2 linked regions of the Homo sapiens genome follow. The protein of the gene in region 1 purifies or fractionates together with the protein of each later gene. This does not show direct contact. Each region holds a gene or a part of one and is shown in the gene's direction. Other genes may lie near its edges.

Evidence for each region. Proteins that work in one complex are often made in the same cells at the same time.
Region 2: the proteins of FLVCR2 (region 1) and SLC19A3 fractionate together in Homo sapiens (co-fractionation; one large-scale study listed by BioGRID). This does not show direct contact.

What each region holds. Positions count from the first base shown.
Region 1 is NC_000014.9:75,633,868-75,638,860, forward strand, and holds part of FLVCR2 (choline/ethanolamine transporter FLVCR2), read left to right. Parts: intron 1-1,042; coding exon 1,043-1,146; intron 1,147-4,993. UniProt on the Homo sapiens protein: Choline uniporter that specifically mediates choline uptake at the blood-brain-barrier. Responsible for the majority of choline uptake across the blood-brain-barrier from the circulation into the brain.
Region 2 is NC_000002.12:227,687,029-227,690,528, reverse strand, and holds part of SLC19A3 (thiamine transporter 2), read left to right. Parts: intron 1-2,221; coding exon 2,222-2,363; intron 2,364-2,955; coding exon 2,956-3,132; 3' UTR 3,133-3,500. UniProt on the Homo sapiens protein: Mediates high affinity thiamine uptake, probably via a proton anti-port mechanism. Has no folate transport activity. Mediates H(+)-dependent pyridoxine transport.

The sequences.
Region 1 (4,993 bases):
TTTGGTGTTACTAAACTGTGTGATGGCTTGACAGTGTGACAAGCTAGTTAGTGTTTCTGAGCTCTCATTTTTTTTTTTTTCTGCAAAAGAAGCATAATTGCTTCTTGCAAGGTTCTTTTTAGGATCAGAGAGTAAATAATGACGCTTGTGTATGTATACATAATTATATGTGATACATGTATTTATTATACAGCATAGTGCCTGGCAACACTGTTGGCAAATATATATATAAAATATTTCTGAATTTAAATGTTTCCAGAACCCACGAGGGCTGGGCTGGATGCTGGGAATGGAATACTGAGTGGCCTGGAGTCAGGAATACGGAGATGCAACCCTCTTTTGAAAGGACTAGGCTCTCACACTTGCAGAAGGGGTAGACTATATGGCTAAGTGTCCTAGTTTTGGAGTTCAAAGGCCTGAGTTCAGATCCTAGCTTTGAACTTAACATATGCCTTGTGACCTTGGGCTAGTAGGTTAATTTCATTGTGCCTGTTTCTTCATCTGCAAAATGGAGAAGACTGACTCCTAACCTTATGATGGGGAATGGCGAGGAGTAAATGAGATAATGATATAAAACCTTAGGCATGGTGCCTGGCTTATAGTAAGCACTCAAAAATATATAACTATTATCTTTCCATTCCTCTTGGCATTGATAGTTCAAAAAAACCTAAGAATGGAAATTTTAACATATATATTTTAAATTCCCCATCTGTGAAATGGAATTAATGACAGATAAGATAGAAGAGTTGCTGTGAGGTTTACATTTTTTAAAAAATTTGCCTAAAAGTAGTTCTAAGAACAGATTTGGTTCATCCTTGTCACTCCAGCATCCAATATCATGCACACACAGTCAGGGTTATATTGTTGGGAGGAGTAGTTATTCTAGAATTTTCTCCTAGGCCATCTTGTCCCGATATGTTCTGAATATTGACTCTGATGGAGCTTGAGTTACCTGCCTTTGTTCCTTCACCCCATGGTGACTGTGCTCTGTCCTGGGTCTTGTCCCATCGCCGGGTGATCTTTGGGGTTATGGTTTCCCCAGGGGGAAGAAGTGAATGCTGGAAGAATTGGCCTGACGATCGTCATTGCAGGAATGCTTGGGGCTGTGATCTCAGGAATCTGGCTGGATAGGTCCAAAACCTACAAGTAAGTGACTCATCCTCTTGGACTGAGAATTGGGGACCTGTTTTTTGAAATGACATATTCATAAGCAGTGTGACTCCAAGTCATTGTTTGGAGATCCTAGTGGCCAAGCAGGTCATTCAAGTTTGACTTCTCTGAGCCTCACTTTCCTCATTTATCAAATGAGGGAAGCTATACCCGTCTTAAGATCCCCACAGGATCTTAGGAAGATGGGAGCTACTGGACTTGAAGGCCTAGCATAGTCCTCTTCCCCATCCCCACTCTCTAAGTAGCTTTGTGAAAGCAGCAGAGGAGGGAGAAATGAAAATGAATGGGGAAAAAAAATCTCAGCGGTGGAAAATTTGTGGAAACCCCAAAGAGTGGAGATGAGGAGGAGGTGATTTCACTCTCCTGTTCTCATGGCACCTTGTGGACCCCATGGGGTTGACCAAGGTACTCTGAGCTTTCTCCAGTTTGCAGTGTATATTATTGTGCAATTATTTATACCTTGTTGGTAAATATTATAACTTACTTTGGACCTGAATGCCCAGTGCATTTCTAAGAGCCTGGAGCTATTTTAAAAGGTTTTATCAGGCTGGGCGCAGTGACTCACATCTGTAATCCCAGCACTTTGGGAGGCCGAGGCAGGAGGATTGCTTGAGTCTAGGAGCTCAAAACCAGCCTGGGCAACATGGTGAAACCCCATCTCTACAAAAAATACAAAAATTAGCTAGGCATAGTGGCACACACCTGAAGTCCCAGCTATTTGGGAGGCTGAGGTAGAAGGATCGCTTGACCCAGGAGGTGGAGGTTGCTGTGAACTGGGTTCACGCCACTGCACTCCAGCCTGGCTCAAGAAAAAAAAGAAAAGAAAATGTTTTATCGGTGTGCACATGGGTTAAAAAAAAATTAAAAGGTTTTAGTGAATGCCAGGCCACTACCCGCCCCATGGATGCCAAATCAGCAGAAGAATCTGCATTTGTAGAAAGCAGCCTGGGTGCCTCCATTCAGCAGCTGGCCTTGGAGAAAATCCTCTGGCGAACAGCAGCCCAACATCCTTCCCTTGTGATTTTCCAGTGCTCCCCGTTCACTGGGTACTCAGTTAGCACTGGCTGGCGGGGCAGCTGTTGGGCTGTACTGTACCGGGGCAGAGCAGTGTCCCCGGCTGCTCTGTCAAGGCCTCCAAAGTTCCCAGTGTCTGCAGGCAACAGACAGTGGCAGACCTGTTCTCTGCCACACAAACCCGCTTCTGTGAGGCCCTGGTCAGACCAGGTCTCATTCTGGCTGCCCTAATCAAAGGCCAATTGAGACCATCCCTAGGGAGGTGGCGACGAGGAGCCTGGCTCGGCTTAATTACTGCTGGCGGGGCTTGGCTGCCATCTCATCGCTGCCATCTGTTAGTTGCTTGCTTCAGCCAGACACAAGAGCAGTGAGGACTGGCCATCCCCAAACCACTGAATAGCAGTGACCCTTTTTCCGGGGCTTGCTCTGCGGCAGGAGGAGGGAGGGATGGGAATGCTGGCTGGGCTGGGACATGGGCAGCCGGATGATTCAGATGAATTAGAAAAGATAATGAGAGGACTGGGAAGAACACTTTCTCAGCCCTCTTCAGAACCTAGATGTCACCAGTTCCTAGCATCACGTGATGTCTAAATCCAGTGGTCAGCACAAGATATTTTTCTCCCTGTGCCACTACCCAGGCAGAGAAAAGGCAACTCCCAGTGGGATGAGAGCTCTGTGATCCCATCATTTCGGAGCCAGTCCTCGTCACTCTAAGGCTCCCAGATTTGTCTAGTTTTGTTTGGAGGTTGGAAATTGGGTGGTGAGGTCTGTTTATCTCAGACTGGGACTACAAATAGTTTTTCTAAACTGGTCAGTGGTTTAGGATGAAGCTATGGTTAAAGCTTCATCCTGGTGAGCTTGTGGGATCATCGGGCAAGACTGGCGTCCATGACGTTGCTTTCAGCAGAGTTGGTAGGAAGAGTGTGAGGGAGGAGCGTGAAGGGAGGAGGAAGCTCCTCTACCCTTAGCAGCTGCTTTGAAGCACCAGGTGGGAGCAGCATCCTTTGGAGACTCTGACCTTGAGCTTTTCCAAAGATGCAACCACATAGTGCATCGTTATTCCCGCATGCAGTAGCAGAAGGGACACAGGTTTCAAATCCAGCTTTGAGTTCACATCTCAGCTCTGCATTTATTCAGCTGGTGACTTTGGACAAGTAACTTGAGTGGCCTGAGCTTCAGTTTCTTCATTGGTAAAATGAGAAATCATCAGATATTTCTTACAGGATTTTTGTAAAGGTTGAATTGAAATAATAAATGCATGTGAAGTGCTTCACAGAATCTGGCACTCAAGAGATGGAGGGTTTCGTTTGACACAACCGTAGCGTGCCATTTGGTGCCTCCACCATGATTCTGGCTTCAGGGGTGATGTGTAAAGAAAAGCTTTAAAGATTTTGGCCAGGTGCGGTGGCTCACGCCTGTAATCCCAGCACTTTGGGAGGCGGAGGCGGGCAGATCATGAGGTCAGGAGATCGAGACCACCCTGGCTAACACAGTGAAACCCTGTCTCTACTAAACAAACTACAAAAAACATTAGCCAGGCGTGGTGGCGGGCCCCTGTAGTCCCAGCTGCTTGGGAGGCTGAGGCAGGAGAATGGTGAACCTGGGAGGCGGAGCTTGCAGTGAGCAGAGATCGTGCCACTGCACTCCAGCCTGGGTGACAGAGCAAGACTCCATCTCAAAAAAAAAAAAAAAAAGAAAGAAAAGAAAAGCTTTAAAGCTTTCATCATCTGAGTCCTGATGTTCATGGTAGGGGGGCAGAGGGATGTGCAGTGCCTATGCCCTGCCTTAGGTAGTGCAGGGAGAAGAATGCAGGTCGAATTGCAGGAGTCGGGGCTGCATCAGAGTCCTAGGTGGGCAACATGGGAAGAGAACTGCTGGAGGGGCACAGGAGGGGGTGAGACTGAAATAGAAACCAAGACTTGCTGATGGTACTCCTGAGGGGATCGACACAGGGAAATGTAACAGGGAGTGGGCGAAGATAGAGAAGGTTTCTCACATTGGCTTTGGAAGTCAAGCACTCAGTTCAGGCTGAGAGAATATTCTCTCTTAGTTCCTGCTCTCTGGAGTGGAGTAGTTCAGACTCAACAGAAAAAGCTTTGCTGGGCCAGGCGCAGTGGCTCACACCTCTAATTAGAACACTTTGGGAGGCCAAGGCGGGCAGATCACCTGAGGTCAGGAGTTTGAGACCAGCCTGGCCAACATGGCGAAACCCCATCTCTACTAGAAATACAAAAAATTAGCCACGTATGGTGGCGCATGCCTGTAATCTCAGCTACTTGGGAGGCTGAGGCAGAAGAATCGCTTGAACCCGGGAGGCAGAGGTTGCAGTGAGCTGAGATCACGCCACTGCACCCCAGCCTGTGCGACAAGAGCGAAACTCCATCTCAAAAAAAGGACAAAAGAAAAAAAAGAAAAGAAAAAGCTTTGCTGGGTCTGTTGGTCTGTTCAAGTAGGGACAGGAAGAACTTGTAGGTGACAGAGCACATTGCCCAGCATTGTCATGGGTCTTGGGATAAAGCAGACAAGCAGAATTGGACAGCTTCTGGGGTAGTCCTGAATGTCACCGCCACCTCATCATGGCTGATGTTTGTCCTGTTTTTTCTTTTTTCTGGTGAGGGATGGGAGAAGGAGAAAGGGCTTTGCCCTTCTTGTCTGTGGCTAGGACATGACAAGTCAAGGGGCAGATTGATATTGTTGAGTGGGTTCTACAGAAAGGGAACAAAGATATCGTAAGATGGCTTCATACTTTACTAGTCTTACTTACCCTTTGTAGCATTGATCATGATGTAATTAAATAATTTTTTTGTGT
Region 2 (3,500 bases), on another chromosome or scaffold:
TCATCGTGTTAGCCAGGATGGCCTTGATCTCCTGACCTCATGATCTGCCCACCTCGGCCTCCCAAAGTGCTGGGATTACAGGCATGAGCCACCGCGCCTGGCCGTATTTACAATTTTTATATTCTCTTGCTGAATTGACCCTTTTATCATTGTTTAATGACCTGTGTCTCTTACAGTTTCTGTCTTGAAATGTATTTTCTCTGCTATATGTATAGCTACAAGTCCTCTTTTTTTGTTTGTTTCCATTGGCATGGCATATCTTTGTCCATCCCTTCATTTTCAGTCTATGTATGTCTCTATAGGTAAAATGTCTTTCTTGTAGGCAACAGGTCATTGGGTCTTTTTAAAAATCCATTCAACCACTCTCTTTTGAAGAGTTTAGATTGATAAGTAAGGACTTACTCCTGTTATTTTGTTATTTCTTTTCTGGTTTTGCAGTGTTTTTCCTTTTCTTTCTTCCTTTTAGTGAAGGTGATTTTCTCTGGTGATATAATTTAATTTCTTTTTTACTTTTTGGGTATCCATTGCATGTTTTTCAATTTGAGATTACCATGAGGCTTGCAATACTATCTTATAACCCATTATTTTAAGCTGATAACAACTTAAGACTATTTGCATAAACAAACAAGCAAAAAGAAAACTAATAAAAACTCTACAGTGTAGCTTTGTCCTCCTGCTTTTTAACTTTTTGTTGTTTCTCTTTATATCTTATTGTACTATTTGTCTTGAAAATTTGTAGTTACTATTTTTGATTGGTTCATCTTTTAGTCTTTCTACTTATGAGAGTAGTTTACATACCCCAGTTACAGTGTGATAATATTCTGTGTTGTTCTATGTACCTATTATTACAAGTGAGTTTTGTGCCTTTACATGTTTTCTTATTGCGCATGAACGTCCTTTTCTTAGAGATGGAAGTACTCCCTTCAGCATTTCTTGTAGGACAGGTCTGGTGTTGATGAAATCCCTCAGCTTCTATTTGTCTGGGATGGTCTTTATTTCTCCTTCGGGTTTGATATTTTCACTGGATATACTATTCTAGGGTAAAAGTTTTTCTCCTTCAGCACTTTAAATATGTCATGCCACTCCCTGGTTCTAAAATTTCTACTGAAAAGACTGCTGCCAGACATTGGAGCTCTCTTGTATGTTATTTATTTCCTTTCTCTTGCTCCTTTTAGAATCCTTTCTTTATCCTTAACCTTTGGGAGTTTGATTATTAAATACCTCTAAGTAGTCTTCTTTGGGTTAAATCTGCTTGGTGTTCTGTAACCTTGTCCTTGGATATTGATCTCTTTAGGTTTGGGAAGCTCTCTGATATTATCCCTTTGAATAAACTTTCTACCTCTATCTATTTCTTTACCTCCTCTTTAAGGCCAATAACTTAGATTTTCCTTTTTGAGGCTGTTTTCTAGGTATTGTAGGTGTGCCTCATTCTTCTTTTTTCTGTTGTCTCCTGACTGTATTTTTAAATAGCTTGTCTTCAAGCTTGCTAATTATTTCTTCTGCTTGATCAGTTCTGCTGGTATGAGATTCTGATGCATTCTCAGTATGTCAATTGCATTTTTCAACCACAGCATTTCTGCTTGATTCTTTTTAATTATTTCAATCTCTTTATTAAATTTATCTGACAGAATTCTGAATTCCTTCTTTGTGTTATCTTGAATTTCTTTGCGTTTTCTTAACACAGCTATTTTGAATTCTGTGTCTAAAAGGTCGTATATGTTTCTCCAGGATTGGTCCCTGGTGCCTTATTTAGTTTGTTTGGTGAGAACGTTTTCCTGGATGATCTTGATGCTTATGGATGTTCATCAGTGTCAGGGTATTGAAGAGTTGTATTTATTGTAGTCTTTGCTGTCTGGGCTTTTTTGTACCTGTCCTCCGTGGGAAGGCTTTCCAGGTATTCAGAAGGATTTGGGTGTTGTGATCTAAACTGTATCTACATTAGGGAGCACCCCAAGCCCAGTAACACTGTGGTTCTAGCAGACTCTTAGAGCTACTGCTTTGGTGGTCTTGGATAAGATCCAGAAGAATTCTCTGGATTACCAGACAGAGACACTTGTTCTTTTCCTTTACTTTCTTCCAGACAGTCTCTCTCTCTCTTTGCTGGACTACCTGGAGCTGGAGGTGGGTGACACAAATACCCCTGTGGCCAATATGTTCTATCTTTTTAAGACTTCCATCCATGTATATTATAGTTAAAATGCTTATTTATGTTTAATGATAGATTTCAGATTGCAGTTAATCTGAATGTGGAACGCTATGCCTTGGTATTTGGAATCAACACCTTTATTGCCTTGGTGATTCAGACCATCATGACTGTGATTGTAGTAGATCAGAGAGGGCTCAACTTGCCAGTCAGCATTCAGGTAAGCTGCAATACTTCTGTTTTCAACTAGGTAACCTCAAAAATTTCTCAACCTTACAACAAGCAATATTTAAATTTCTTGAGTTCCTTGGTTAAGCAATTAAAAAATACATAATTCCTTCATTATCATATTATAACACACCAAGTAGGTTTTGAGCAATAATTGCAACTAGGACAACATTTACATGGATAAGGCAGGTAAGAAGTAACCTCAATGCTTAAATTTATTCTTGGAGACATTGAATGTAGCATTGCACCAGCCTCCAAACAAAGACATAGAGACAGGTCAATGAGTTTTAGTGTTTTTTTGGGTTTGTTTTGTTTTGTTTTTTACTATTGATGATAGTAACTATGATTTTAACCCAAGCAACCTGCTCTAAAGCCAAGACTCTTAGTCACCGTATTGCTTACACCTTCTTACTTGATCTTGATTTCTTACTTGATAGGAGAGTATTGTTCAACCTAAATGACCCATATTAAAAACCTGGGTCTCAGTTACCCCATAATCCAAGCAAACCAACAGTATTAGGATGTATTATCATTGACATAGATGGTCATATTTTATATGTGGCTAATTATTTGTTTTTCTCCAGTTTTTAGTTTATGGGAGCTATTTTGCAGTAATTGCTGGAATTTTCCTAATGAGAAGCATGTATATTACCTACTCAACCAAATCCCAGAAGGATGTACAGAGCCCTGCTCCAAGTGAGAATCCAGATGTGTCTCACCCAGAGGAAGAGAGTAATATCATCATGTCAACAAAACTCTAACCTCATCGCAACAAACGCAACAGTGGCTTTCAAAGTTATGCAATAATAAGGAAAGATTTTGAGATGGGTGGCATATGTTTTGCCATAACTTGACATGCTTTGCAAATCTGGATTCCAATGGACCTTTCAAAACCACAACAAAACCTCAGTTTTAGATGAGTTCTCTATGTGACCAATTTTACTGGATGCAATTGACAGGACCCGTCATCATAATTAAACAACCCATATTGGGGACCCCCTGTGACTAGTAGCAGCTGGAAAATTCTGGTTTTTATCACTTGTAAAGACATGCAGATGGCGTGGAACCAAACCATGAGAAAACTCCAGCCATCCTGGAGTTGATATTCACCATTTGTGAGGAGAAATAC